2 separate regions of the Homo sapiens genome follow, and region 2 is linked to region 1. A link means that fine-mapping ties the variant in region 1 to the expression of a gene that starts in the linked region. Tissue or cell type: whole blood. Region 1 holds a variant in brackets; the other region holds the start of a gene. All regions are shown on one strand. Distances are between the middles of the regions.

Region 1 (5,184 bases):
CCTTGTCTACATCAGTAAGTAGCTTCCACGTTGTCTGGCCTCTCTGCAGGAACCGGCACCAATGCCTGCTACATGGAGGAGCTCCGGAATGTGGCGGGCGTGCCTGGGGACTCAGGCCGCATGTGCATCAACATGGAGTGGGGCGCCTTTGGGGACGATGGCTCTCTGGCCATGCTCAGCACCCGCTTTGATGCAAGTGTGGACCAGGCGTCCATCAACCCCGGCAAGCAGAGGTGTGGGCTGGGCCCAGGCAGTGGTGGCTGGCTGTGACCGGTGCTGGGGATGGTGGCTGGTGGGGCCTTCTGCCGAGTGCACACATGTTCATGCAGGTTTGAAAAGATGATCAGCGGCATGTACCTGGGGGAGATCGTCCGCCACATCCTTTTACATTTAACCAGCCTTGGCGTTCTCTTCCGGGGCCAGCAGATCCAGCGCCTTCAGACCAGGGACATCTTCAAGACCAAGTTCCTCTCTGAGATCGAAAGGTGCCTGAGGCCTACATTGCCTCCCCCACTTCAGGGGGTCTTTCTGTCCACTGTGGGGGATTGCTGGCCATGGGTGGTGACGAGGTCTGCTCTGGAGGATGAAGTGGGAGAAGTCACGACCCACCTCCCTGTGCTCTCTTCCTTCCTGGCCCCCAGTGACAGCCTGGCCCTGCGGCAGGTCCGAGCCATCCTAGAGGATCTGGGGCTACCCCTGACCTCAGATGACGCCCTGATGGTGCTAGAGGTGTGCCAGGCTGTGTCCCAGAGGGCTGCCCAGCTCTGTGGGGCGGGTGTAGCTGCCGTGGTGGAGAAGATCCGGGAGAACCGGGGCCTGGAAGAGCTGGCAGTGTCTGTGGGGGTGGATGGAACGCTCTACAAGCTGCACCCGCGGTGAGTCTGGGTGTGCGGGCTGGGGAGGGAGGTGTGGCCAGGTGGGGCTGGTGGCCTGGGCTCACCTCAGCCCTCCTCTCACAGCTTCTCCAGCCTGGTGGCGGCCACAGTGCGGGAGCTGGCCCCTCGCTGTGTGGTCACGTTCCTGCAGTCAGAGGATGGGTCCGGCAAAGGTGCGGCCCTGGTCACCGCTGTTGCCTGCCGCCTTGCGCAGTTGACTCGTGTCTGAGGAAACCTCCAGGCTGAGGAGGTCTCCGCCGCAGCCTTGCTGGAGCCGGGTCGGGGTCTGCCTGTTTCCCAGCCAGGCCCAGCCACCCAGGACTCCTGGGACATCCCATGTGTGACCCCTCTGCGGCCATTTGGCCTTGCTCCCTGGCTTTCCCTGAGAGAAGTAGCACTCAGGTTAGCAATATATATATATAATTTATTTACATTCACGCCCGATAAAACCCCTATGTGCCCCGGCGGCCGGGCAAGGCTGTGTACATAAGGCCAAGAGTAAGTGCGTGAATGCACTTAAGACAAAGTCAGGACACGAGCTTCACATGACAGGCCCCGCGTGGGGCACCAGCCAGCCCTGGGGACGGGCACGCCACGCCACACACACACTCACCACTGTACAGCCTGGGACTCCCATTGCATATTCACAGGCCCCGCCGGGCAGGGCACCTCAAGGCTGGGGGAGGGGCAGGGGCAGGGAGGAGCCGTGGGGTGTCCCTGGGTGGGTGGAGAGGGCAGCATGTGAGAGGCAAATGTGCACCAACACTGGGCGTGAGACGTGAGCAGCCTCAGGTGTACAGCATGAGATGTGTGTGGTTGGGGGGTGTCTGCGTGACCCGGGAGGGGGGTGTGTGTGAGATGAGCACACGAGGCATGCGTGGCACGTGCTCGTGTGGTGGTCGTGTGCCTGAATCCAGGGGCTACCCCCTGTCCGGCTGTGGCCCTCGGTCCTGCAGGCTTGGAGCAGGGCCCCTCAGACGTGCCCCTACCCAGCAGGCACAGAAATGTTTGCATAAGGTCCAGCTCAGGCAGGAGCTCTGGGGCCCTGGCCCAGGCCCAGTGTGTGCGTGCATGGCCGTGTGTATGCGGGGCCCCTGGAGAGGGACGGGAGGAGAGGTAGCATCACACGCACATACACACACACAGATGGGCTGGGCCTGGCCCAGGCTCCAGGCACTGTCCCTCCTGGGCCCTGGGGCCGAGTGTGAGTGGCAGTGCCAGCCTGGCTAGGCAGGCCATGGAGAGGTGGGAGTTCGGGCAGGGTCTGAAGGACCAGCATTAAGGGACAGCTTCGGCCGGGAGGGGGCCTGTCCGAGCAGCTCTCCCCGGTGTGGGGAAGGGCCCCTGTCCGGCTTCTGCCTGTCCTTGGTGGGTGCCAAAGCTGGTGAGAGTGTAGGTGTCGGGCCTGGCCGGCCTCAGCACTCAGCCTCCGACACTGTGAAGAGGCCAGCGTCTGGCTGGCCCAGTCCAGCCACTGCTGCAGCCAGCTGGCTGAGGTTGCCGTTGGGGAAGTGCCGCGCCTCCCACAGGTTGAGGATCATGGCTGTGGGGCTGGGCTTGGAGGCAAAGAAGCTGAGATGGCTGTGGAGGGGAGGGGGGCCGTCAGCAGCCTGGCCTGGCCCCAGCCGACACCTCCTGCCCCCCCTGGCCCACCCCAGGGCAGGGCCTCCCCGAAGCCAAACACAATGACTGCCCCGGCCACTAGTAGATGCGGCACAGGCCCCACAGGGCCTCCTGTCCACCTCACCCACCCCGCCGCCGGGCAGGACTGTCGGTGGCCTGCGCAGGCCCTCTCTGCCCCTCTCCCGCCCACCTGTCCAGGTGGAGTTTCTGGGCCAGAGTCCGCCAGTCGGCACCCCGCCTACAGGGTGGGTCCAGGCTGGAAATTATCTTCTGCCGAATGAGGAAGGGGATCTTGAAGGCACTGGGGCCCACCAGGGCTGGGACCCCCGCTTCACTCTCCAGAGCCAGCAGCTCAGCAAACCTTGTGTCCTGGAGGTG[G/C]GAGGGAAAGAGGTGCCTGTTAGAACTTTCCCCAGGCCCGGGTCCACCGCCACCTCCTGCTGGGGGAGCTCCCAGACTCCCCCAGAGCATGGGGGCGGCATGAGCACTGGTACTTCCTGGGCACCTCCCATGTGCCAAGGCCCTTCTTACTGGGGCTCGGAGGTGCAGCGACCTGCCCAAAGCCACATAGCCAGAGAGCAGAGGAGCCCTCTGTGGCCTCCCTCCCTCTCCGCCCTTCTCCCCTCCAAGTCACTCTGCCCAGCCTCTGCTGACACTCAACACACACAGCTCTCTTCACGGCCTGAGTCCCCCCTGCCCAGCTCTCACCGCCAGAAATGCTCTTCCCCTTAATGCCGCAGCCAAACTGGCTCATTCTTTGGGGCCCAGTACAAAGCCCCTCCTCAGGGAAGCCCTCCAGGGTCTCCCCTCCTGCTGCTCCCATGTCCCCTGCACTCCCCTCCCCAAGTCCCATTTGCACCTGTGCCTCCCTGTCTCTGAGTCTGGGAGGAAGCTGCCAAGGGGTTTCTAGGAGGAGGTGGGCCTGGGGACAGGCGGGAGGGAGAGTGGGTGGCAGGGCAGGCAGGGCAGGAGCGTTTTGGGGGCTGGTGGGGAGTTGGTAGTGGGAGCACGTCACGGCGGTGCGGCAGCCCCTCCCGTCCACCTTGGTGATGTTGAAGTTGATGCTGAAGCTCTGCCCGTCGCCCTCCACCTGCCACACCCACAGCTTGCAGGCCAGGTCACTAGTGCTGGGGCTGACACGCTCCAGGGTGAAGGTGCAGTGCAAGTACCGCTGCGTGCCATTCCAGATGTGATAAAAGGGGATCTCCTGATGGGGATGCAGAGAGGAGGTGTCAGGTGAGCCCAAGCTCCAGGCCTCTTGTGCGCTGGCCACGGCCCTGGCCCTCACCTGGTAGCTGACAAGGAGCTTACTCTTCCACAGGGAGCTGGGCACATCGTGGATGGATAGGCGCAGGTTGTGGTAACTGTCCTTGAAGTGCAGGACCCGTGGCTCCTGGATCAGCTGTCCCCCCAGCTGCTTCTCCAGCTGCACCACCTCCTGCAGTGCCCCAGGTGGTCAGCCCAGGCCCCTCCCCACTGCGCCCAAGGCAGGCAGTCCACAGGGCCAGGCATAGCTCGGCCTCCCAGCGGCGGGGGGTGAGGGGCGGGAGATACCTTGAGTGCATCGTGGGTGTCATGCAGGCAGTAGACCCGGATGTTGTACTCGAGGGAGGTGCAGGCCACCGGCGCAAACAGAAGCAGCTTGAGGCGCTTGGCGGCAGCCACGCTGAGGGCCTCTCCCACCAGGGCAAAGCGGCCCAGCTGCTCGGTGAAGACGTAGCAGGCACTGGCCTCCAGCTGGCAGTAGTAGAGGTGGGAGGGCGCCTCCTCGCCCAGGTGCAGCACATCCTGTGGGCAGGGGTCAGTGGGTCAATTCGGCCCAGCCTCAGAGCCCTAGGGCCAGCTGTGGCTTCAAGAAGTGGCCGGAGACTGGGGAGGGGTGGGGGTGCGGCTCAGGACCACCCAGCGGTGGAAGGCCGGGTGGAGCGTGCAGTTAGCCCACGTTCCCTTCTGGAGCCCGGGTCAGTTCCCTGCTCACCTCCCAGCTGCCCTCGCACGACTGCTTTTTGAGGCGCAGGCTCCAGCTGTCAGGGCTGGGCTCCCCACAGTGGTCCATAGCCAGGATGACTGGCCGGGTGAGCAGGACGCCAGGGGGTCCACAGCTAACGATGGGACTCAGCAGGGTCTGACAGCCAGCTAGGGGCAACCTCAAGTGGGGAAATATGGGTGGGGAGGGAAAGGTGTCAGTGGCCCATCCTGGGTCCTGAGGGCTAGGCCAAGGGCAGGGCAGCAGCATCCCAGGGGCCAGGGGCTTGGGCTGCAGGACCACGTGGGGCTTAGGCATAGCTCTTTCCCCCGCCGCCTCGGGCCAGGCACAACAGTGGGTGGGCAGGGGGCTTCCTGGGGACCGAAGGCAGCAGGCAGGTCCCTCCCACCCCCGGCAACAGGGCCCGCGGCCACACCTCACGTCTTCCGGCTTGTGCAGCGTGAGGTAGATCTCATAGATCTTCCCTCGGGGTATGGCATCTGGGGGGATGAGGAGGCTGATTCCTGGAACGGCAGGAAGAGGGCCAGGGCTTACCCACTGCCAAAGCACCCAACACCCCACCACACAGCCCCTCCAGGAGCCTTCCTGTGAGGACTGACTGGTGCCAGCCCGGCCTGGGGACAGAGGGGCCTCAAAGACTGCCGTGCTGACCAACCACCCCCACAGGCATGAAGCTGAGTCAGGGGCACCCCATGAGCAACT
Region 2 (5,126 bases), 620 kb before region 1:
GGTTCCCCAACCTTTTTGGCAGAAGGGACCGCTTTCATGGAAGACAATTTTTCCACAGACTGGGGGTGGGGTGGGGATGGTTTCAGGGTGGTTCGAGTGCAGTACATTTATCATTAGACTCTTTTTTTTTTTTTTTTTTTGAGATAGAGTCTCGCTCTGTCACCCACACTGGAGTGCAGTGGAGCCATCTTGGCTCACTACAACCTCTGCTGCCCAGGTTCAAGTCATTCTCCTGCCTCAGCCTCTCAAGTAGCTGGGATTATAGGCATATGCGCCACCACGCCCAGCTAATTTTTGTATTTTTAGTAGAGACGGGGTTTCACCATATTGGCCAGGATGGTCTCGAACTCCTGACCTCAAGTGATCCTCCCCCGCCTCAACCTCCCAAAGTGCTGGGGTTACAGGCGTGAACCACTGCACCCGGCCCATTTATCATTAGATTCTCATAAGGAATGAGCAACCTAGATCCCTCGCATGCACAGTTCACAATAGGGTTCACGCTCCTATGGGAGTCTAATGCTGCCGCTGCACTCAGCTTCTCTGGCTTGCCGCTGCTCACCTTCTGCTGTGCAGCCCAGTTCCTAACAGGCCACAAACGGGGAGTTGGGGACCCCTGATCTAGTAAACATCTAGGCAGGGTTTTGGATAATGGAGTTAGAGTTCCTGGGGAGAGGTCAGGCTGGCCATGAAACATGGGATGCCTTTGCATATAGGTGGTGTTGAAAGCCACAGGACAGTACGGGGTCTCAGGGGGTGAGCATAAAGAGAGGCGACATCAGATGGCCAAGGCCAGAGGCAGAGGAGGATGGGAAGGAGGGGCCAGTGGGGCAGGGGGAAGCTGTGAAGCCAGGGAAAAAGGGTGTTTCGCGGAAAAGGATCAACCTGGACCAGTGCTGCCCCTAGGCAGGGCAGGATGAAACTTAACCACCACGGATTCCATGGCCCCATGGCCTCCAGGCCACAGGGGACCTTGAGAAGAGAGATCTCAGGGGACGGGTGCGGACAAGAGCCCGCCTGGCATGGCTTCAAGAGATAACTGAAGGAAAGCAAGTGGAGACGCGATAAACAGACAACTCCCTGGAGGAATTTTACTCTCGAGAGGAGAATTAAAGGGTAGTAGCTGGAGAGGGATGTGGGGTCAAGAGAAGGTCTTTAACGACGAGAACTCTCACGGCGGTTTGTGCAGAACAGGGTGGGTGTGATGACTGTGGATGGAGAGGGGAGAACTGCAGCGACTCTGTCCTAGGAGGAGGTGATGGGCCGGGACCACCAAGCGAGTGGAGGGTGGACGCCCCTTCCCTCACCCCGACACCCGCATGTGCTCAGTGTCCGTGCCGCCGGCCCTAGTGCCTGGGCTGAACGCGGGGCCGGGACTCTGAGGACGCCTCCCAGGCGGCGCAGTCCGCTCTGGCCAAGGTGGAGCGGGACGCGGCGCTTCCGACGGTGCGCGGGTCGGCTCGGGGTTGCAGGGACATCCGGCGTCCGCTCCTGCCCTGTTTTCCTGCCTTCGGCAGAGCGTTGCGCAACTCTAGCTTTAAACGCCCCTGTCCCCCTCAACTTGTCTCCCCCAGCCCCTCTGATTTACAGATTCTGCAGTCCCCGAGGGTTGCGCCTACGATACCGACACTCGCGGCAGCCCTGCGAGGCGAGTATGATCGTCCCATTTTTCGGAGTAGCAAACTAAGGTTCAGAGACTACTATGTCCCAGGTCGGTCTGGTTTGAAGGTCCGCTTTCCTCTCCCTCCGCCAGCGGGCGGTGCGAGGGACTGGGCGAGGCAGCGCTTCCCTAAGGAGGCGACCCGCAGCCCCGGCCCCCTCCCGACTCCGCCCCGTTGCAGGGCCCGGGTCGGCGAGGCCTCTCAGCTCTAAGCCCGACGGGACTTGGTGATTGGGCAGGACGGAAGAGCTGGGTGGGGCTTTCCACCAGCGGAGAAAGTCTAGTGGGCGTGGTCGCGACGAGGGCGTGGCCTGGTGCCCCGCCCCCGTCCGCGCGCTCAAAGTGGAGGGTGGCTGTGGGGGCGGGGTCAGAACACTGGCGGCCGATCCCAACGAGGCTCCCTGGAGCCCGACGCAGAGCAGCGCCCTGGCCGGGCCAAGCAGGTATCGACGACCGCGCGGGGCGTCTTGGGCTGCACCAGGCGGGCGCCCGGGGCCTGCTGAGGACCACAAAGGGCACTGGGGGTCGTGGTCCAGGCTGTGCTTCCTCCCGCTGGCCCTGGCCCCTGCCTCCGCCCCCGCCCCCGCCTTCCTGCCGCTAAGCCGGCTGCGGCGGGGCCGATTGGCGCCTGCGCCGCTTCCTGCGGCCGGGGCCAGTCTAATGCATGGGGCCCGGGCGGGGGACTAAGGGGAAACTGAGTCACGTCGGTGTGGGAGCAGTTCTGTGTGGGAGGCACCACCCCCCACTGGGCTCGGGGAAGGATCCCCCTCCAAGCTATGCTTGAGGGTCCCAGCCCCCATCTGTCTCCACAGGGGCCGCACCCCACTCCCGCCTTCCCCTTCTTCAGCACCCAGGGGTCCCGCCCTGGCTCCCAGCAGCCTCGACTGGTCCCGGAATGGCTAGGAGGATCCGCTGCAGCCGCCTCCCTCCCCTCCCCTCCCCTCCCCTCCCCTCCCCCCCCCCTCGCGTCCCAAGCCCCCGTGTGCTCCCTCCGCTGGCTCTCCGCACAGTGTCAGCTTACACGCCTTATATAGTCCGAGCAGGCTCCAGCCGCGGCCTGCCTGCCGGGACCTGGGGGCGGGGGAGAGGAGAGCCGGCCCCTGACTCACCCGGCCGCCCGAGGCTCCAGGCTGGCTTGGGGGGAGGCCGCGCCAGTTTAGTCCCTCGGCCCACCCCTGGTTGCAAAGAACCTCAAGCCTGGATTCAGGCACCCCTCACCGTTCCAGTCCCAAGGGGAGGGGGGCTGCTCCTGTCTTTCCAAAGTGAGGTCCGCCAGCCAGCAGCCCAGGCCAGCCTGACAAAATACCTGCCTCCTATGGCTTGGGCGTGCTCAGGGGCTGCCCGTGCCTGCCTGGCCCCTGTCCAAGGCTGGTATCCTGAGCTGGCCCGGCCTGCCTGCCTGCCCGCCCACCATGCTGGCCACTCACCTTCTCTTCTCTCCTCTCAGGAGCCGGCATCATGGATTCCTTCAAAGTAGTGCTGGAGGGGCCAGCACCTTGGGGCTTCCGGCTGCAAGGGGGCAAGGACTTCAATGTGCCCCTCTCCATTTCCCGGGTGAGCCTAGGTTTGGGGAGGGGGCTCCCCCAGCGGTCTTTCGGTGCTTAGGTCTCCAGAGGGTGATGGGGGGAGTCCTAACAGGAGCTGGTCAGGGGCCAGCAGGCCAGGAGATGTCTAGGTCCGGAGATGTAGTGGTACCTGCCTGCCACAAGGACTCCCAATGAGGTGGATACTGGGAGGGAGCACCCAGGCTTCTCCAGCCCTGCACTGTACCCGATGCTGTTCTCCCAAGCTCCTGTGGCCACCTCTGAGGGCTGGAGGGAGGCTCATTGTGCAGGATGGGAGCCTAACATTTCAGGAGGTATCTAAACTTGAGGTGGCAATGCTTGGAGCCAGGCCCCAGGCAGGACACTGTGACTATAGGATTTCACTTCAGCCTCACTGCCGCCCAGGGAATAGCAATCCTCATCCCGTTTTTCCAGATGAGAGAAGAACTCATGGAGAGGTGGCGGGGCTCGCTCATCGAGTCCATGGTGAAGCAGGGATTGGAATTGAGGCACAGCATGGCGTACATTTTTTGTGGGTAGAAGGGGTCTCTCCCCAGCCTATGTAAGGACCCACATCCACTGTTCCCATTCAGGATGTGGTGGCCTTTGACCCCAAGCAGAAGTGTAGGACAGGGCTCCATTCTAGGGGCTTAACTTCAGCTTCCAAGAGCCTGCCCTGGTGTGGGTGGAGCTGGAGGCTGGCTCCTCCCTGTAGCAGGGGGATTGCCTTATAAGCCCAAGAATGCAGCCCCACGCTGGGATGGCCAACAGTGGCTGCGGTCTGCAGAGCTGAAAAGGGCTGGCCTAGGCCTGGCCCCCTGAACCCCACTGGTGGGCCTCTCAGCTGGTCACCAGGCTGCAGCTCCAGCTATATGGTCCAGTTGTGAGACACAACAAATTGCCTGCCCAGAGTGGGTGAGGCCAGCCTGTCGGCTGGCATCTCTGACTGGCCTGGGGGTCAGGAGGGGGTGGGGACTTCCTGCCCCTATATCCGCCTGCCCCAAGAGACCCACCCAGGCGCCGGGTGGGCAGGCAGCTGTTGTCAGGAAGCCCAAGGCAAGCCCAGCCTGGAGGGGCCCAGAGGGTCGTGGCCTGAGGAGGGGCTCAAGCTGGAGTCTGTCTGTAGGAGCTGGGCGTGGGGGTTAGGGTGGGCAGGCCAGCAGTGCTCTTCTCAGGGGTCCTTTGATGGCATTCTCCTGGAACCTGCCCCGCCAGCAGGGTAGTGAGGCAGTGGTTGCCCTATGACACACGTCCCACTACATAGCCCTCACACAGCCCTGAAACCTACCTGACGTCCTGCTCCCTGGGAAAGTGCTGGCCCAGTGTGTCTGGGGAGCCTGAACCTCAGTTTCTTCCCTGATGGAGATGACTTTCAGATATGGCCTGTTGGGGGCACTCCGGGCTCCAGCTCCCTGGTCAGCATCCCTGGCATGTGGGCGGGGCCACTAGCTGATCCCAGCCCTGGAGTTGGACCTGGGCCCACATGGGTGGGTGAGGTGGGCTTTTCTGAGTTAGGCCAGCCCCCTCCCCCTCCCCTGACCCCAGAATGGAGGGAGGTGGGAGGGGCAAGGGCTGGCTGTGGGCCCAGGCCTGGGAGATGAGGTAACGTCTGGGACTGGGGGGCTGGGCTGCTCAGGCTGACTCACCCCCACCTCATGCAGGGTCCAGCCCCCTGGCTTTTTCCCTCCTTGGTTCCTCTGGCCTTACCCTGCCCCTGGCTTGAGCCCCTCCCTGCCTCTCTCCAGCCACCCGCCCAGCGCTGTCTTCTGCTCTCCTGCTGCCCTCCCCACGCTCTGAACACCCCTCATCCTCTGTGCTTCCTGCCCTCCTCACTCTGGGAAGGGAAGCCGTCCCCGCCCCCCACCCCCTCTCCAGGAGCCAGCTAGCTGCACCCCAAGACCCCCACCTCGGGCTCAGCCCACAGC

What was found. PIP is the estimated chance that this variant, and not a neighbour inherited with it, causes the effect.
Region 2: it holds the start of PDLIM7, and the variant in region 1 is fine-mapped to the expression of PDLIM7 in whole blood (TOPMed, PIP above 0.99).

Annotation. Positions count from the first base shown.
Region 1 is chr5:176,876,993-176,882,176 of GRCh38, reverse strand. UNC5A (unc-5 netrin receptor A) reads right to left here. Exons shown (of 15, transcript NM_133369.3): 9 at 4,898-4,985; 10 at 4,474-4,642; 11 at 4,050-4,283; 12 at 3,784-3,933; 13 at 3,538-3,702; 14 at 2,689-2,867; 15 at 1,279-2,456. The coding sequence ends at 2,291. It overlaps HK3 (hexokinase 3), which reads left to right. Exons shown (of 19, transcript NM_002115.3): 16 at 50-233; 17 at 330-485; 18 at 642-875; 19 at 960-1,308. The coding sequence ends at 1,104. Among named protein-coding and RNA genes, the nearest start is that of HK3, 20 kb to the left of the region's middle. RefSeq lists a silencer at 1,857-2,222. The variant G/C (reference allele first, on the strand shown) is at 2,877.
Region 2 is chr5:177,494,502-177,499,627 of GRCh38, reverse strand. It overlaps PDLIM7 (PDZ and LIM domain 7), which reads left to right and starts at 2,024. Exons shown (of 13, transcript NM_005451.5): 1 at 2,024-2,100; 2 at 3,105-3,211. The coding sequence starts at 3,116. RefSeq lists enhancers at 411-1,150, 1,369-1,418, 2,631-3,372 and silencers at 1,629-2,338, 2,749-2,828, 4,526-4,820, 4,767-4,916.